6 separate regions of the Homo sapiens genome follow, and all the other regions are reported to be linked to region 5. Evidence: microRNA targets listed by miRTarBase, many of them from high-throughput screens and not tested one by one. Region 5 holds a microRNA gene; each other region holds the end of a gene's coding sequence.

Region 1 (3,174 bases), not on the chromosome of region 5:
AAATTGGGGGAAAATTTGACCATTATTTCTTCAAATATTTTTCTATCCCCCTCCATTCTTCTGAGAAGCCACTTACATATATATTAGACTGCTTGATAATGAAACACAAAACTTATACGCTTTTTTCTTTGTACTTAATGTTGGATAATTTATATAGCTATATATTCAAGTTCATTAATATTTTCTTCTCCAGTATCTAATCTCTTAATCCTATTCAGTGTATATTCTTACTTCAGATATTGTATTTTTCATCTCTAAAAGTTCTATTTGGGTCATTTTTATACCTTCCATTTATTTCTTCATTATGTTTTTATCTACTACTTGAACGATATTTATGGTAGCTGATCTACTGTATTTGTCCATTTTCACACTGCTATAAAGAACTACCTGAGACTGTGTAATTTAGGAAGAAAGGAGGTTTAAATGATGCAGTTCCACAGGCTTAACAGGAAGCATGGCTAGGAGGCCTCAGGAAACTTACAATGGCAGAAGGCAAAGGGAAGCAAGCACATCTTACCATGGTGGAGCAGGAGACACAGAGGGAAAAGAAGGAAGTGCTACACGCTTTTAAACAACCAGATCTCATGAGAACTCATTCACTATTATGAGAACACCAAGGGGTGTTCTCCATATCCATGGAGAATACTCCATATTCATATCCATATAGGTGTTCACCATAATCCAGTCACCTCCTATCAGGTCCCTCCCCCAACACTGGGGGTTACAATTCAACATGAGATTTGCGTTGGGACGCAGAGCCAAACCATATCATTTACTAATGCCATCATCTGTCATTCTCAGTCTATTACCATTGACTAAAGATTCTCTTGACTGTGGATTGCCTTTTCCTTTTTTTTTTCATGCCTGGTAACTTTTTATTAGATGCTAATCATTGTGAATGTTACACTTTTGGTGCTGGATTTTATTGTAGTTTTTATTTTTATTTTGATGGGTTTTCTCCCCTTGGATGCACTCAAGTTACTTGAAATCAGTTTGATCCTTTCAAATGTTGCTCTTAAACTCTGTTAGGGCAAGTCCAGAGTAGTCTTCAGTCTATTCCCATCTCCCTAACCTAACCCTAACCCTACTTTGCCAATATTTTGCTGAAGACTCTACTCAATGATCCATGTACTATATTAAAAGATCCACTATTGTTGAAACACATATTCTACCCAGCCTTGTATGAGCTCTGAGGAATTTTTCTTTGTTTTTCTTTTTTTTTGAGACAAAGTCTCACTCTGTTGCCTAGGCTGGAGCACAGTGATGCAATCTCAGCTCACTGCAACCTCTGCCTCCTGGGTTCAAGCTATTTTCCTGCCTCAGCCTCCCAAGTAGCTGGAATTACAGGCACCTGCCCATCATACCCGACTAATTTTTGTATTTTTAGTAGAGTCGGGGTTTCACCATGTTGGCCAGGCTGGCTTCGAATGCCTGACCTCAGATAATCCATCCACTTCGGCCTCCCAAAGTGCCAGGATTACAGGCATGAGCCACCAAGCCCAGCCCTCTGAGGAATTTTTCATCACTCCTTTCTCCTTCCTGTCATTTTTTCTCCAGCCTCAGGCAATTTCCTGCCTCGATTTTGTTTTCTTCCTTTAAGGAATGTTCTATTTTTATTTGGCAGATAAAATGAGGTTACTTAGAGATCATCTTGAGTCTCTCAAGGCTTATTTTTAAGCTTTCTTAAAATTGGTATACATTAGCCTTTAGTCTAGCTCCAGTTTGGATCTCTTATGAAAGTACAACCTTTCTGAGTCTCTACTCAATGCCCCACATGTTCAAGATCTTTCCACTTTAACTGGTTGGCATTCAAACTTCTCCCAGCTCAGTGTGAGCTCTGAGAGTTTTTCCTCTTATAACTCCCTGGCAGTTTTTCTTTTCACCTAATGCAACACATATGCATCTACGTCTATTTAATTATAAGTTAATAAACTTTTCATTTTAAAAGGCTTATATGTATATTTTCAGAAGCAGCAAGGTAGACAAAAAACACTGGTGAAAATTGTATCTGATCCTAAAGTCAGTCTTTTGGAGAAGACAATTTCATTAGATGGGTGCTGACAGCCATCGAGAGAAAAGGAAAGCAGACTGAGTTTCTGGGGACTACTGCAAGAAGAAAAAGAGAACATAGAGAGCTGGCCTCATCCTCAAAAGTGATCCCACATCTAACCAAATTAAAAAATCCACATGAGGTTTCTCAATACCTACTGTAAACAATTTATCAAGATACCTGGTTAGCACTTCGTGTACAAAGTGATAACCAGACGTCATTTTTCTTGGAAAAATCGGGGTTGGAACCACAGCTTTGACTTCATTATCAATATATTTAACCAACAATCTGGGCTCCTCTATGGAAGTGGCTTAAATGCCTTGCAGATTAACCATGGACTAAGAACTTTCTTTGATCTTGAATACTGTTCCAAAACACACAACCCCAGGGCTCCATTTCTCACCCAATATAATCATTCCTGAGCAGAGCATTATCAAATAGTATCAAGCCAGGAAACTGGCTTAGGGTACTAAGGTGAAAGGATTTAGCCAAGTAGCAACCCAAATATGAACAAGGAAATGAGCTTAAGACACATTAAGCATTTAGAATAAGCCCCACCTGACTGATGACCATGGTGGATTAAGCTTCATCTTTAATTATTGATATTAATGATCTACTGTGAGCAAGATGATCTCTAAGGTACTTTCTAATTGTGAAATATTATTCTGTCTTATGTATCAGACATAACTGATAGCCTATCACTACATGTGCTTTACTGACTACATTTCTGTCGGTCTTACTAAAAGTAAAGAGCTCAACTGTTGTCATCATCTAAAGGTGCCACCACTTTTATTTGTTTACCAGATCACCAGATGATACTGGTCCATTACCCTTGACCTAGTCAGACCTTGACAAAAGACTTAATGGTGCTATTTAGGATGCATTTCCTTGCTGCTTTGTGCAGGTGGCTTTCTCGTTGTTGCATAAACAGTGACGGGAACATCAGTTATTGTCAGGCAATGACTTCCAGGGCACCTCCGGAGTTGCCTGAATAAAAAAGCAGATGACATGTAGTTAGATACTAAAAAGAGGAAATATTTTTTTTCAGAGCACCAAAGTTTGATTGTATATTTAACTGTTTTAAATCACTTTGAAATCTCTGAATGTCATACAATGAGTACAAC
Region 2 (3,000 bases), not on the chromosome of region 5:
CTCGGGTGAGCCAGACCACACCACCGTCACCAACAGCACCAGCACCCAGCAGGGCAGCCTCTTTCGGCCCAAGGCCAGTCGGACTCCAACGCCCCAGAACCCCCCTAACCCCCCAAGTCAGCAGAGCACCCTCTACCGTCCCCCCAGCAGCCTGGCCCCAGGCTCCCGGGCTCCCATAGCAGGATTTTCATCATTTGTTTGACATCAGAAGAGGAAAAAGCAGAAAGAGAAATGGCACCAAACTCCTCCTTCACCCCTCCTCTCACTGCCTGCCAGAAAACAAAAACACCAAGAAACCAAGTCAACTTTTCACCTCCTGAGTTTATTTTTCCAGAGATTCCAGGGCCAGCAAAGCCGGCGTTCAGAAGGAGGGAGAAAACCGTGAGAGGATGTGTGTGGCCAGCAGCTCTTCAGCTTTGAGATGGTGGGGTTCACTGCTCCCTTGGGAATTACACGGAGCTGGGGAAGTGGCTGTGTCACTGCTATGGACACGGAGTGGGGCGGGCATCTGGAGAGAGAGAGGGAGCGGAGGCTAAGGACTGGAGGCCGCCAGGCAGGCGTGGCCGAGGGAAGAAAAAGCTTCTGGATGTCCAGCCAGCTGCCCCCTTCCAGCCCCTCCAGGACCCCTGGACCCACTGCCGCTGCTCTCTGCAAAAAGAATGGGCATCCCGGAGGCCACGCCTATCTTCTCTCTCTGCTCCTCCTTCCCTCCATGCACCATCACTGTGGCTGGCAGGCATCGGACAGCCTCATCCAGACCCCCTGCCCTGTCTTGGCAACCTCTACTGCCCATCTCCCCTGCTCAACTTCTCCACCAAGCATTTGGTTTATTTAGAAAAAGGAAGAAAAACAAAAAACAAAAAACTAAAGGGTGAGAATTTGCTTAGCGCCTTCCTTGTTCCTGCATATTTTTTAAAATATTGAATCCAAGGAAGAGAGCCCAAGGGTAGGGGAGAAACCCCCCACAACTGACCCCTGCCTCCCTGTGCTGGAATTGACTTTCCTGAGCATGGACAAGGAAAGGTGAAGTCTGGGGAGCAGAGGTGTAAATAAGGCGACTGGCCTTGGCACTGTGGGATGATTAGGTTTAACGCATTGTGGGCAAGATAAGAATGACACTTTGACTGTTCTCTTTCTTCCAATCCAGGTTCCATCCGTCCTCTCTTTAAAGGGGTAGTCAGCTTCCCAAGGCTGGGGAGTGGGGCACAGCTGAGGGATCTCCCTCTGGGCAGACACGTCACTCTCCACTGGATAGATCCTCACCACACACACACACACACACACATCTCCCATGCACTTACAAGGAACAGGGTCTAGGGATCCTCTCCAGAACAAACTCATCTGGGCCCTCCTAGCCAGACAGCACACTCACTTTCAGATCTGTGTCCCTCTCACTGCCACCCGGCAGCCTCCTAAGCACAGAGGCACAGGAGCCCAGAGGGGTGGCCCAAGTCCCTGGTCCAGAGGCTGGAATACCCAGAGTTTGCTCAGTCAGCCTAGCACCCAGTTTACAGGCAAAAAGGCAAAGACACCCTAACCCCCAGTAACAGCTTCCAGGCTGGGCTCCGCCTGGCCAGGGCGGGGAGGGGAAGGGGCAGGTCAGGAAGCTCAGTCCAAAGTGGACCCAGCATTTGAATTGCACGCCCAGCAGGGGCAGGTCAGATGGGACCAAGTGACAAGAATAGCTGATGGGAGGGAATGCTTTTACACACACACACACACACACACACACACATACACATACACAATCTGCTCCAAGGAGTGTTCTGCAAAAAGCCACATCCAGTGGCCAGGATCTTCCCGTCCACTTGGTACTTACGGATGCCAGGGTTTAGGGAGAAGCCTTTCTATCTAACTCCATACATTGTCCAAGGCCCTCTGTGCCCTCAGCCAGCCCTGTAAGGCCAGCCCAACACCTGCCCCACCGCTGAGATGGGTGGCAGATGGCCCACAGGGGCCTGTCTGATTCAGCGTGAGCCCCTTCGTGGAGCAGGGCTCCCTCTGTGCACTGTGTACAGGCGCTGCTGGCCCTGCCCAAGAGATGATGCTCTGTTGGGGTGGGTGAGCAGAGTTCAAGGAAGCCCAAGTAGGAGATTTGGGAAACATGCCAAGGTAAGAGAGAGCCTGGACCACTCTCCTACAGCCCCAAGTCAGTCACTGTGCTAATGGTGACCGGGAAGGGAAGTCAGGGTCTGGGGCCCAAAGAACGGGCACACCCAGCCATGAGTTTTTCCTGAAGCACTTGACCCCTGGGAAATGTGAACGGGGAGATGCTGGAAGATGGCTCAGCAGACAGGCCAGCCCAGCTCCAGTGTCCAAAAAGCGGTTTCTCCAATAAGGAGGCCTGGGAAGGGAAGCACAATCTTCCCCAAAGGAGAACCAAGGGCTGAGGTTCTGCCCCTCCAGGAAGTAAGGTGCTCTCGGGGCCTCCTTGGACTTGTCTGGGGGCTGCAGTGGAGTCAGCTGGACACCTGCTCCACCCCTGCCACCTCCGCCCCCACCCTCTGCAGCATCTGGCATCTCCATGGCAGCACATCTGCAGCTGCCGGCCTGTGATCGTGCCGCACAGCTTTCTTTTCTTTCCTCTCATCTTTTTTTTTTTTTTTTTTTTAAATAACTTCATCCCTTTCCCTCTCTGCTGAGCATTTAACCATTTAAGGAAGTTCCCAGTTTGCATTAGGGAATTATTTAAGCCCAGCCCAGTGAGGGATTATTTGGGAGGAAGCAGGAGTGAGTAAAAACATTGTGTCTGTGTATATATTGCACATGAGGTCAATTTTCCTTTGCCTTTAATGAATCACCTGGTGCACTAAGATATTCCACCCCCCCACTCCCCACACGCTCATTCGCACCCATGCTGACACCTACGTGTACATGCGGGATGGTGCCCATGCACGCCTGTGCTTACACACATGCACACACAAATATGCACAGAACACACATCTGTATGTGTGTTAGCAAAGAGACTCCTGAACTCCCTCTGATGGCTGAAGCCATCTC
Region 3 (3,000 bases), not on the chromosome of region 5:
AGGATGGAGCCACCACTCCAGCTCTTGACCCAGAAAGAGGGGGAACTCTCAAGAAGGGCAGGAAGAAGGTTCTGTGGCTTTTCCACCAGGATTGTAGAAAGAACCTGGTGTATGGAAAGTGTGCTGCTACACTCAGGGGGAGTTGGAGTGGACCCACCGGCCTGCACCAGGGGGAATGCCACTGATTCTGCTGCCCCGCTGAACTTCCCATTTGCCCAGAGAAGCAAATGCTATTCTGATTTCCTGCCCTGCCTCAGGCCAGCACCAGCTAAGCAGCTAAGGTGTATGTCATCACTGACAAGCCAAAGGGACGCATCTAACCTGGGCCGCCTGGGGGCATCCCTGGGCTATGCCCCGATAGGTTGGCGAGAGTGGGGAGATGCTCTCAGATGGGCCAGCCATGGTTGAAATATAAAGCTGGCTCAGGTGGCTCCTCAGGTTCCGCCCTCCCCTCCCACCTTCTTCAGCCTGAGAATAGTCCCTGGCACAAGCAGGTAATCAGTAAATACTTGTGGAATGAATTTATTAACTGGTTTAGAAGGAGGACTGGGAGGTAAAATGGAACTGAGAAATTCGCAGTGCAGTGGGACATTTTCCCTCATCAAGGGGCACTTTCTGAGCTCAGAGAAGTAGCTTGTGGCAGACAAGCCTGAGGAAGCCCACGTGTGGCAGAGAGCAATGCCAAGCTTGTGATGGGAGCTTCTTGAAGGGTTCCTGTGGTCTTGGGGTAATTTCTGGGCACAAGCTCAGAGTTCAGCTGTTGACTGAGAGGGAGGTCTCCAAGCCAAGGTCTTATGCAGAGCTGGAGCCTATGAGCAACATCACCCGTCAGTCTCAGCTTTGTCCTGGGACAGGGGAGGGCTTTGCAAATGCAGTTTTGATCTTTCAGGGTCTGCCCCATGAAGCCTCCTTACCATGGCTACTTTGGCCTGAGAAGAAGAAATGATTCAGAACAAGGAAGAGAGTAGAGGAAAAGGCTTAGCTGGGAATTTTTAGACAGTCAGGTTAAAGCCACCATCTTCTACAATGGCTGAGAGCACCACCTCCCTTTGGATATGGAGTTGGTTATTACAATGGGGTCAGGGAAGGGCAGAATGTGGCAAAAAAAAAAAAAAGAGAGAAAGAGAGAGAAGACTGAAAACCAAGGCAAGCCCCGTAGGGAGATAAGGACTAAGCCAGGGACCTCTACTGTGGCAACTTCAGCAGCAGAGTCCCAGACTGGGACCCAGTACCTGAGCACAGACCAGGCCCTGACTGTTACTACCAGGGGGGCAGGGAGAAGGTGTCTTGAACTGGCATTTTGGGGACGACATCTGTGTTGCTTCTTTCTTGCCAAACCCACACCTCTCCATTAGGGCCCCCCACCCCTCCCCACCAATCAACCAATTACAAACACCACACACAGTATTACTACACTGAACCCGTCAGCCCCTACTGTGAGCCAACCCACACCCAGAGTCCAGGTCTCCTTAGCTGGGCCAGTTCAGTGAGATCTAGGAACCTCAGGATACATCAATCACAGTCAGATAATTATAATTTTAGAATGTCAGCTTCATACTTACCAGCACTGTTTATTTTAATATTTTTTCCTGTTATATGTAATATACATAACTTCAAAGCACATCCGTACAAACCTCCTACAAGCTGCACCTTCATAATGAGAAACCATAAGCATACAATGTCTACTTCCCTTCCTGTGGCTTCGTTTTCTGTTCTTGCTTTCTTTTCTTTTTCTCATTTCAAAGGAGAGTCATCTGCAGTGGCCCTCAGAAGGACCAGGACACAGAGGGTGAAGGGTGTGGGGTGGGGGAAGGGGGAAGGGGGAGGAGGGAGCCGAGACAGAAAATGACAGCAAGACATTGAGAGTTGAGGGTGAGGGGAGGCGGGAGAGAGGAAGGTAGGTTTTGCAGCCCAGTGTCAAGATCCAGAAAGTAAGAATCCAGTGTTCCTCCTCTTTCTTTCCAAGTGGGGAATTTTCTTTTTTTCTCGGAAAATGGTTGACTGTGCGTGTCTTGCTGCTGTGACTTCTCTTGCTTTGCTGTGCAAGTGTTTTCCTTTGCATTCAAGTGGGCCTTAGAGATGCTGGAGAAGAACAAATGGAATTGCTCGTCTGCTAACTGTAACGTGCAGAACCAGGGCGGGAGGGACTTCTACAATCATCGTGGTCTGGCTTGCGTTTCTTATTTGGCGGGGGAAAGGGGTGAGCAAGGGATTATAGTTATTATATAATTTTTTTTCTTGAAAAAAATCCCACCAGTTCTTCAATTTGTCTGCAAAGGAAATGTAGGTGTTCAGATGTCGGTTGTTGCTGTCAGCCAACTGCTCTGCCAGCCCCAGCAGCAGTGCAAGGATGCGGTGTTTCCTGTATATATATCTATATCTCTATATATCTATATATATATGCTTTTCCCTTCCCAGTCTCTCATCAGTGACAGTACGTCGCAGCTGGGACGTCAGTGTTGCGTCGGAGAATCCAGAATGAAGGCCCCTTCTTAATGGTTCTCTGGCTTGGGTTGGACCAGAAATGCCAGGATCTCTTCACAGAGGTCAGGATTCCTGGAAGCCAGAGGCATGGGGTAGAATGGGGGGTGGGGAGTGGGGGGAAAGGAAGGAAGAGGACAAGAAAAATTAGTAACTTCTGTCACTTGTTTTAAAATACATGGCAAGAGGTTGTTTTTGCTACCCTTTACCATATGCCCTTTATTGTGACTCAGCAAGGTAGAGTGACTTGCACCTGTAATCCCAGCTACTTGGGAGGCTGAGGTGGAAGGATCTCTTGAGGTGAGAAACTCAAGGCTGTAATGTGTAATCATCATGCCTGTGAGTAGCTATTGCACTCCAAGGCCACGCAGCTTGTGTGTGGCAGCAGAGAACCGAACCCACATCTGTTGGATTCCAGAGCCCATGTGTGTTTGCTCGCTTGTTTCCAGGGAGGTGGTAATCTTTTACTTTGGCCTGACAATGTGTTAAAATGTCCTTTAACACCGAGAAGCTAAGATC
Region 4 (3,174 bases), not on the chromosome of region 5:
GTTTTCATGACATGCATCTTACCTTCACTAGCTCTTCAACTTTTAAATTTCTATACAATAGGCTTATGACTTGGAGAAGAAGAAAAGACAACAACCCTTAGTAGGTGAGCCTTATGTTTTAATTCATGGAATTAGAGATTAGTCGTGAGGCTACAAAGATCCAATATTTTCAAAACCTGATGATTTTTTATGTTAGAGTGACTCCAAATTGATGCGAGTCTGGAGTCAGGGAGTTACCCAGTTCCAGTATAGTGCCACTGACGCTTAAGTAGCCTCACCAAACCATGCCATTAGGGAGCAGTTTTTAAATAACTATCAAATTATACAGTGACAGCATCATTTTATTTCATACACAATCTCCTTCCCCTGCAGGCCAACTGCTTTAGAATGTGCACTTCCATTGGAACCCCTATTTTCTTACAGCATGTCGGCAAGTCTGTGTTCCTAATCAACTGTGAAATTTCATGAAGGTGGGTACTCTGTTCTAATCTCAGAATGTGGTACAGCATTATGGCATGAAACAGAACTCAATAAACACTAACTGAATAAAGAAATGGGTAAAATAAAGATTAAAGCGAGGATTTTTCAAGAAAAATTGTATCTTTTTAAAAATTGTATGCAATAATGTGGATTCTCTAAAATGACTAGTAGGAGAGAGAGGAGGGACCAACTTATAAGGAAGCTTTCAAATGTTATTGTTAGTCACATGGGCCTTTGTGAGAGGGTTGGGAGAAGTCTCTGGAATAGAAAATAAATAGAAAAGGAATATGTTTTTGGAGTATAAATGATCATTACCTTGTTTCAGGAGCCACAGTTCACCCAGAGGCCAGAGGCCTGGCTGAGTTGTTTGTCCTAAACTTAATATATTTGCTATATAGTTCTGTTAATGAATAGAATTCTGTAAACCAATAATTACACTTTATGTCTTAATTGAGCACTTAGAAATTCAAGATACATGAATTATTTTTCTGAGCTATTTACCAAGCCTATTTAAACTTGTGAGTTTTAAAAATGAAGCAAACTCTTTCCCTGAGATAAGCTTTTTACTTCTTTTGCAAGGTAGCTATTTCAGTAATATTTGGTATGGCACTATAATGAAATCTGTCAGGAATTAGAAGGATGAGTACTTTACTATAACTGAAAAATGAGCATGTTTGAGAATTTCTGATAACACTAATGAGTTAGTGTTTCAAATGAAAATAATTAAGTCAACAAAAAGAAATTCTTCTTGGATCAGTCTTCAGGACTGAGTAATACTGATAAAGAAATATCACTTGAAAGGAGCTTTTTGTCTTTAAATGAAGATAAATTAAAAGGGTAACTAGGATTTGCCACCTGCAATACTGATACCTACTAGCACAGAATCAAAGCTAGAGTATAAAAGAAAATTCTCTATAAGTCACTGGGCAATTTTTAAGAACTCATTTTTTGGGGGGAGCAAGAAAAGTAGTCAGACAAATCAGTCCAAGGTGAGGTATCTTTGGAAAATTTAATTTGGACCATATTTTCTTCCTCTTTCTGAAAACATCAAATATCCCCATACAGTTTGGGTTCCACAGCTTACAAAGGGGCAGTGGGTTTCCCGCAGTTACATACTGTACCCAACTTTCTATAGAAAGATAAAACATTTTCCAACCTTGCTTTTGAGTATTTCCTAAAAAATGCTTTAAAGTTTCCTTACAATAAATGGCAAGTAAAACAAAGTAAGGCTTTTTTTTTCTCCTTTTCCCCTTTTTATGTACTGCATGTTCGAGGAATAAGGAAGGAAGACTAGTTCCATCAGAGTACTAGTAATCCTAGTACCCTGGGGATTACTGCTGGATCCTCCCAGGTATACCCCTATTATTGAGGCCCTGATGCACCCCTGCACTGAGGAACCTGAGAAGGGTAAGTACTAAACAGTCTGTCATAGCCACGTGGGACTGTCACAGCACAGGTGGGACTGGGAGTCGCCCAGTTCTTCTCGGTGCTCACAGGAGTAACAAAGGAACTAGGACTAAACCATAACCAGAGGTCTCCCACGTGGTACTACAGTACCACACGTTCACTTTTGTGGCCCTTACAAATGCACATTTATAGACCCAATGTATTTACTGGAAAAAAAAAGAAAAAAATGCCTTTACTAATTTCTGTATCAAATTATTAGAATGAAAATAAAAGCATTTGTCTGATAAAACACACTTTCTATGTTAGATGAAAATAACTCCCTTGCAAGATAAGCTTGGTAATGTGTATTTGTCACTATTTATATATTTTTGCTTAGTACACACATTTCTTTAATAGCATCATCTGAACAGCTTTGTCATTTTTCAAACCTGTAGTTTCATTAGCTTAAAAAAAGGATAAGGCAGCCAAATTTAATGAATTTTGGTTGCAGAAAAACATCTCAGGTATTAACTCTCATCTTCAAATATTAAGAGCACATAATTAAAAGATAAAGTTTCTTCTCTTAACAGGAAACTAAGCAGCTATTGTCATCAAATGTACTTTTACATGTACTTTTTAGTGAAGGGCCCCCTCATAAATATAAAATTAAATTCTTTTGAGGAATAGGTTTGTGATTTTAGTTATGCAGGATTTACATTTATCCTTTACATTTTGTAGTAAAAAATGTGTGGTCTTTGCTTATTTTCATGAAGTGATTTCTTCATCTCAGCAGGCTCTCACATACAAACGGCAGGCTGGGTTACTCAGCTTGTTTCTGAAAGGGGAGGCAGCCACATGTCATGTGCTCTTAGAATCCTTGCAAAAACTCCTGTAGCTGGGTGACAATCTCCGTATCCACTGTTTCCATGAGGGACTGGAAACCTTGTTCTCCTAGCATCTCCTGCTGTGCCTTGAGCTTCTCGTAGATGAACTGCTGCAGTGACACTGTATGAACAGGGTCCTTCAGGGCCAGCTGTGGGATACAGAGAGGAGCAAGACTGTCAAAAAAGCAAAACAAGTCTCTCCTACCTGCAATTTACAAAAGTTCTTTGTAATCTCTTCTACAGTAACAAAATTGCTTCTGCCTCTCTTCTCACACAGATTCTGTACTAATCTCATGGTGGAAAAATCTGTCAAAGAAAATTTCATTCAATTAGTCTTAACTTCAGTTCCCTAGCGCCCCCTGAACATGTTTTCTGATCAGGCATTTCTCAAGAGCTGGGGGACTCATTCATTTAAAGCATCAAA
Region 5 (3,174 bases):
CAAAAAAAACCAACCTTACTGTTTAGGAAGCTCACAGGTCCAAGGCCTGTTATCTTAAACAACAATAGAGCAGTGTCTGGCACACAGTAGCTGCTCCGTAAATGTTTGGCCCAAAGAATAGTATCACTGGCATCTCTGCATTTATTGAGACTTCATATTGCAGTGACCCCTTGCTGTGGATCTGGGCCTGCCCCAGCATGGGCAGCATCTGTGGGAGGGGCCGTGGTGGATGGAGTGTTGACATACACTTGGTGGCCAGTGGCCCAAGCCCTTCACCAACGGGGTGGGGTGGCACCTCCAAGCCAGGCCAATCGCAAGCCACCTAGATGGGTCCCTGGCCACTACTCCTCCCCACAGCCAGGAAGGCAGGGGCAAGGTCAGAACATCCCCAGTCATTCTGGCCTCCTCAGCAACTATTAACTCTCACAGTCTCTGGGAGAGCAGGGAGGCAGGGTGATTATAAAAGGGTTCTGGCTATGGCCTCCTTCCACTGGTAAACAGGCCAAGGGTCAGGGTCTCGGGAGTTGACAAAAAAGAAACGTAGCTGACCTTGCCCTTCCCCACACCCTTCAGCAAACACGTGGCCAAAGGCTTCCCACAGACAGGATCTTCCCATAGGGCTGGTCTGGAGCCCAGCTCACTCTGGTTATGAGGACAACGGATCTCCCAGGATTTATGTAGCCATCCGGGCCATCAGGTGACCACAGCTGGGTGGCTCAGGGCAAGTCCTCTCTCATTCTCACCCCTCCACCCTCCTAAAGTAGTTCCTGCCTCCCAACACCACAAACAAGCATCAACTGAGGGCTATCGCAACAATGCCACACAGATGCAGAACCTTCCACAAGCCTGGGGTAGTGGCATTCAGGCTGTCTTTCCTGAGGCCCATGTTCGACGAAGAGAGGCCTCTCTGCAAGGCAGGAAGGACTTTGGCACGTCACCAGACAGGACTGTGTAGGGTTGAGGCAGGCAGAGGGGAGGGGCTGGGCTTACGTTGGGAGAACCTCCTGGTTCACCGTAAAAGTTCTCCCAACGTAAACCCAGCCCCTCCCCTGGGAAAGGGACATGAAGCAAGCACATCCCATCCCTCCCAGCTGTCACTGTGCCATCATCTGCTAGTACCCTCTTGGGGTCTCCCCACAAAGTGGAAGCAGGGATTGGGCCTCCCCCATCTCTACAAAGGCTGCCCAACCCTGAGAATGGGCTGCGTGCACTCTGCAGAGTCAAAGCATGAACAGGAAAGCTGTTCGCTCAACATTTTAAAGAAATGTTTATTTTTTGGAGGGTGGCGCTTGGGGGAGGGGAAGTTCCTGGAAATGGAAAGCTGGCTTAACAGAAGCCCTCCTAACAACAGTAATGACCGCTGATATCACCCACCCAACTCGCCATGTGTGCATCCACAATAACCCCGCGGAGAAGGCGCTTGTCAACATCTCCACTTTTCAGATGGGGAAACTGATGCCCAGCCATTAAGTGATTTCACTAAATGACTTCCTACCAAGAAGCCAAATTTTGACATTTCAAGAGAGCTTAGAGAAATATTTTTGAAAGAAAAACCACCATTAAGGTTAATAATTGACAGCACTTCTGATTAGAACAGCTGTTAAAACAGCATTGGATCCAACTCAAACAAGCTCTAAACATCAGTTCCAAAAAAGGAAAAAAAAAAAAAAAAATCAAGTGTGACTTCAACAATTGGGACAGGTCACAAATCACAAACTGGAACTCGATCGTATGTTGGAAAACTCCTTTTGGCAACTTGGCGCAATCCGTTATCGATAAGGCGGCTGTAGTTTCCAGAGGCCGACCTCCATCCTTCCCTCCATCTCGGTCCCACAAAGCCACTGCTTTTGAGCCAGGTCTTCAGAAGCGAATCTGAGAGGTGGTGGGAGGTGGGAAGATGGCTCCCTTTGGAAAGCACTTTGGAAAAGGTGTTCAGGGAGGCTGGTGCCGCCTTTGAAAGTTTCTTTTCAAGTATGGTTCAAAGCAGGCGCTTTGTTGGTGGAAAAACATTGTTCCTCAGAAGGAACTAATCTACTAGATACAGACAGAGAAGCAGTTCAGAGAAATGGGGACAGAGGTCCTGCTACATCCGGAATCTGCACTACCAACTGGGCGCTGGGAGTAACATCTGCCCTGCATCTCTGTCAAGATTGTTAGGCAAATAAATGACAGAAAACAAGATAGTGGGGGGCAAGTGTAATTTCCCAAACAGCAATCTGTTCCATGCGCCTTAGTAGCTCCCATTTGCATGATCATCTCCTCATTAAAGCAGGACCTCTGAACATCTTGCTGTAAACCGAGGGTACTTGAGCATTCTAAAAGTCTATTTCTCTAACCACAGTCTAGTATTCACGTTTGCTGCTACTTCAGACTATCCTTGGCCCTTGACCCAAGACACTAAATTAAGGGAAACGGAGCCTGCTCTTGATCTGTACCCCCCAGCAACCTCCTGCTCCTGGGCTTGCAGCACCCAGCCAGTCCTTGCCCTTATTTTTAATTTAGGTGACTGTGTCCAACACACCGTCGAGAGCTACTTCCACCAGAGAGTCTGTCTGCTAGTTAGTTTTAAACTGCCCTGTCGTGTGTACCTGTGGACTCTGAATGCACAATTCCTTTTAACCTCAGCCAAATAAAGGCAAGGAGAAGAGAAAACTGCCCCTTCAAAGAGTGTGTTATGCTCCAACGCCACGCAGAGATGAGCTGGCTTCTACCTCCAATTCTGCCTCCATTTAGTTGTGTGGCTTTGGGCAAATCACTTCCCTTCTCTAGGCATTAATTTCGTTGTCTGCAAAATGAAGGGATTAACTAGATAACGTATAAGATCCAGGAGCCCTAATTTAGAGTTTTAGAACCCTAAATATTCCCGAATTGGCGTGCAGCTTATCATTTCCTCCATAAAACAGAGCATCACATGAATTTACAAAAGACCAGCAGAGAAGAGCCAAGCCACCTTGAGATGTGGATGGATGCTGGCTGGTTGCTGGGCAGCTGGCTGACCTGGGCTGGGTCCCAAGGACCAGTCTTCAGAGCACGAGCCATTCAAATCTGTCCATCAGCAAAACTGCGCTTCACTGTGGAAGAGCCTCTAGGCAAGAACAATGATATCATACTTCTAAGTGTCAAGCCCCTACTGTGCAGTTTCTGTGATTCAAAAGGGAAGACTGGTTGGTGAGG
Region 6 (3,000 bases), not on the chromosome of region 5:
CCACCTCTGGCCTCTCTGGGCTCTTCCCTGGGGACTGATGCTGGACTAGATGAGCTTATTTTGGTTACGGAAATCTCTGGAAGGTGGGGAACCCCAAGAAAACACAATTCACACACTGTGGTACACAGGCTTACTTAAAACCATTTTTATTCTGCCTCTGAGCAACACTTTTCATTTGATTTGGGTAAAAGACCAGGGACCCAAACACGCACAAACAAAAAACAGGATGTCAGAAACAGAAATCAGGGTCCAATCTATTGGAATGATGCTAGAATCTCTGTGTGCTGAGATTTCGTGTCCCTGATTCAACGTCCTCCTGGGACAAGTGCTGGCTCATCACAACATCCGGGTAAAATGACAGGTTGAATCTGATGTTCATCAGAATTTTTTTTTTTTTTGCTAGGGTTCAGTATATGAAAAAATGCTGAAATTTGTATTGGTATAGTACTTAGAATTCTCCCCGCCAATGGTTAGTCACAACTATTACAACAATTAATTCTCATAACAGCACTGTGAGGTAAGTAGGCAGGCATTCTTATCCCCATTTTGCAGGTGAAGGAATTTTAGGCACAGAGAGGCTATGAAACTTGCCTAAAATCAGCTTGCATAGCTAGTTAGTGGCCAATAAAAACCCTGCAAAAACAAAAGGGCGTTGGAACTAGGTATTGACTCTCAGCCTCTTATTCATTCAATTAGAATAATCTGCCTTTCTTTTTTCTTTTTCTTTCGTTTTCTTTTCTTTTTTTTTTGAGATGGAGTCTTGCTCTGTCACCCCGGGCTGGAGTGTAGTGGCACAGTCTCAGCTCACGGCAACCTCCGCCTTCTGGATTCAAGTGATTCTCCTGCCTCAGCCTCTCTATTAGCTGGGATTACAGGCATGCACCACCACGCCTGGCTAATTTTTGTATTTTTAGTAGAGATGGAGTTTCACCATGTTGGTCAGGCTGGTCTCAAACTCCTGACCTTAAGTGATCTCAGCCTCTCAAATTGCTGGGATTACAGGCGTGAGCCACCACGCCCGGCCAGCATAATCTGCCTTTCTTTTGCTTCATTATCACCATCTTTCTGACATTAATTCTTTGAAGTGACTTTTGCCACATATACTTATCTGGTGTGTTAATTACTTGATATTTTCTTGAGTTCTCTTGTTTTTCTTAATTTATTTGAACAGAAACAATATGTCACATCCCCCACTGTGGGAAGCTGTAAATGGAAGGTAATAAATAAAATAAATACCATGACACAAAACAATATCATTAAATTCTATCTAGACAGAAGACTCTGAGGCCTGCTCTTTCTTTGCTAAAAAGGGAAAAGAGCCATAGTGTCTGAAAGGTGTAAAGGACCTGCTAGCACTAAACAGAGACTTTTTCCTTGCTGTAATCAGGATGAAAAAAGAATAGAAAAGGGGAAACATTCTTTGTGATTTGGTATTACTTAATGTTGTTCCTAGAAACTACTTAAAAATTATCTTGTGTACCACCAGTGGCACACCCCTTGTGCTCTGTGAGACACTGGGTTACTGCGTTCTGGCAGGCAGAATAATGGCATCATTAAACCAGTACATTCACATCTAAAGGGTTTACATTTGACAGAAAAGAAACACAATGGGTGGCATTTCCAGGTGGCATCCAGGAAAATCAAAGATCTTGCCTGAGACTTGCTAGAGATAGGAGAGAGAGTGAGAAATTGAAAAAAAAAAAGCACATTCTATAAATACAGCCAGTTTATTCCCAAAACTGGGATACAGGAAGTGCTCATGTACCTAGAATTGGCCACTAAGTCCATTCTCAGAGCCTGTTTGAGTGAAGAGTGAGGTTTTGGTCAAGTTGACCAACGTGGATGCAAGCAAGGGAGGGGGCCTATTTGGAAATATAAGCATCAAGACAAAAGGCCAGAAAAGCCCCTTCTTTGAGTGTTTGATGACCAGATGGGTGAACTCTGGGCATGGGAGTGCTGACTCCCAGAGGAGGAGTTACTGAAGGTTATAAGAATAAAAGGAAAAGCAAATCCACAACTTGAACTCTACTAGACAATTTTAAACATGCTGCAAATGTTTGTGCTCAACATTGTAAATACCAGCACCTGCTGCTCTTCCTAGAAACCTCCATCTCCCCCTATATGGAGACCCCCTGGATCCCCTCAGTGAAAAGTTATGTGATTTCCTGAGGCTCGCCTCTGGAGGACAGGAGTGGACACAACGGGATTCGCTAAACTGAGACAGTGAGACTTCATTTTTCTTTTTTCTGTTTTCTTTTCATTTTTACAAATCAATGACTTTGGCTGATCCGGCTGTGCAGCTTGGATTGCCTAAATTTTGGACTTTTTTTTTTTTTTTTTCTTGTTCATTTGCCAGGGACCTGCCTCTGGAGAGTCCTGGAGGAAAAGATCTCACAGTCTGAAGTCAAGGATCCATTCCTTAGAAACTCCTTTGGGGTGTGTGTGGATGAGGTCCATCCTCCACGCTCACAGCCCACTGACCGCTGGTTCCTCAGGCACTGTGTGGTACAGACAGAGAGAGAGAGAGAAAGACCGTGGGCTGAGCTTCTGTGGTTGGCTTTCCCAGCTCGATGCCTTCCTTATTTGATGATGATGACTCTGGTTAAACACATGTTGAAATGTACCAGCCTGCGTGCACACTTTTGACTCTAAGCAGGGGCTTCCTTTTGAGAAACATATTCTATTTGTAAAACTTATTTTATCTTACATGTGGTACGTGCAAAAAAACAAAAGCAAAAACAGGCCAGGCATGGTGGCTCACGCCTGTAATCCCAGCACTTTGGGAGGCTGAGGCGGGTGGATCACGAGGTCAGGAGATAGAGACCATCCTGGCTAACATGGTGAAACTGCATCTCTACTAAAAATACAAAAAAAATTAGCCGGGCGTGGTGGCGGGTGCCTGTAGTCCCAGCTACTTGGGAGGCTGAGGCAGGAGAATGGCGTGAACCCGGGAGGCGGAGCTTGCAGTGAGCCGAGATTGTGCCACTGCACTCCAGCCTG

Evidence for each region. The annotated mature microRNA hsa-miR-629-3p reads GUUCUCCCAACGUAAGCCCAGC and lies in region 5 at 980-1,001, opposite strand. An mRNA with a match to its seed (bases 2 to 7 or 8) in the 3' UTR can be bound and repressed. Matches are read on the target gene's strand: a 7mer-m8 pairs with bases 2 to 8, a 7mer-A1 pairs with bases 2 to 7 and ends in A, and an 8mer does both.
Region 1: miRTarBase lists FAM229B as a target of hsa-miR-629-3p. Seed matches in the 3' UTR shown: 7mer-m8 at 1,816-1,822, 7mer-A1 at 1,549-1,555, 7mer-A1 at 1,530-1,536 and 8mer at 955-962.
Region 2: miRTarBase lists SDK2 as a target of hsa-miR-629-3p. Seed matches in the 3' UTR shown: 8mer at 371-378, 8mer at 951-958 and 7mer-m8 at 1,835-1,841.
Region 3: miRTarBase lists EPB41L1 as a target of hsa-miR-629-3p. The part of its 3' UTR that is shown has no 7-base or 8-base seed match.
Region 4: miRTarBase lists IPO11 as a target of hsa-miR-629-3p. Seed matches in the 3' UTR shown: 7mer-A1 at 1,717-1,723.
Region 6: the mRNA of TMEM233 is a reported target of hsa-miR-629-3p. Seed matches in the 3' UTR shown: 7mer-m8 at 455-461.

The regions. Positions count from the first base shown.
Region 1 is chr6:112,100,533-112,103,706 of GRCh38, reverse strand. FAM229B (family with sequence similarity 229 member B) reads right to left here. Exons shown (of 4, transcript NM_001033564.3): 4 at 917-3,037. The coding sequence ends at 2,920. Among named protein-coding and RNA genes, the nearest start is that of FAM229B, 15 kb to the right of the region's middle. RefSeq lists an enhancer at 2,675-3,174.
Region 2 is chr17:73,335,789-73,338,788 of GRCh38, reverse strand. It overlaps SDK2 (sidekick cell adhesion molecule 2), which reads left to right. Exons shown (of 45, transcript NM_001144952.2): 45 at 1-3,000. The coding sequence ends at 202. Among named protein-coding and RNA genes, the nearest start is that of CDC42EP4, 25 kb to the right of the region's middle. RefSeq lists an enhancer at 1,158-2,057.
Region 3 is chr20:36,228,888-36,231,887 of GRCh38, reverse strand. EPB41L1 (erythrocyte membrane protein band 4.1 like 1) reads right to left here. Exons shown (of 22, transcript NM_012156.2): 22 at 1-2,556. The coding sequence ends at 2,548. The region is part of intron 1 of LOC105372602 (a long non-coding RNA gene); the gene reads left to right. Among named protein-coding and RNA genes, the nearest start is that of AAR2, 6.1 kb to the left of the region's middle.
Region 4 is chr5:62,626,879-62,630,052 of GRCh38, reverse strand. It overlaps IPO11 (importin 11), which reads right to left. Exons shown (of 30, transcript NM_016338.5): 30 at 1,471-2,899. The coding sequence ends at 2,735. IPO11-LRRC70 (IPO11-LRRC70 readthrough) reads right to left here. Exons shown (of 4, transcript NR_073584.1): 4 at 1,464-2,899. Among named protein-coding and RNA genes, the nearest start is that of LRRC70, 50 kb to the right of the region's middle.
Region 5 is chr15:70,078,408-70,081,581 of GRCh38, forward strand. It overlaps MIR629 (microRNA 629), which reads right to left and starts at 1,061; the gene lies at 965-1,061. All of the region lies in intron 4 of TLE3 (TLE family member 3, transcriptional corepressor), which reads right to left. RefSeq lists enhancers at 1-518, 519-1,125.
Region 6 is chr12:119,640,197-119,643,196 of GRCh38, reverse strand. It overlaps TMEM233 (transmembrane protein 233), which reads right to left. Exons shown (of 3, transcript NM_001136534.3): 3 at 122-2,498. The coding sequence ends at 2,492. The region is part of intron 1 of PRKAB1-AS1 (PRKAB1, TMEM233 and CCDC60 antisense RNA 1); the gene reads left to right. Among named protein-coding and RNA genes, the nearest start is that of PRKAB1-AS1, 26 kb to the left of the region's middle.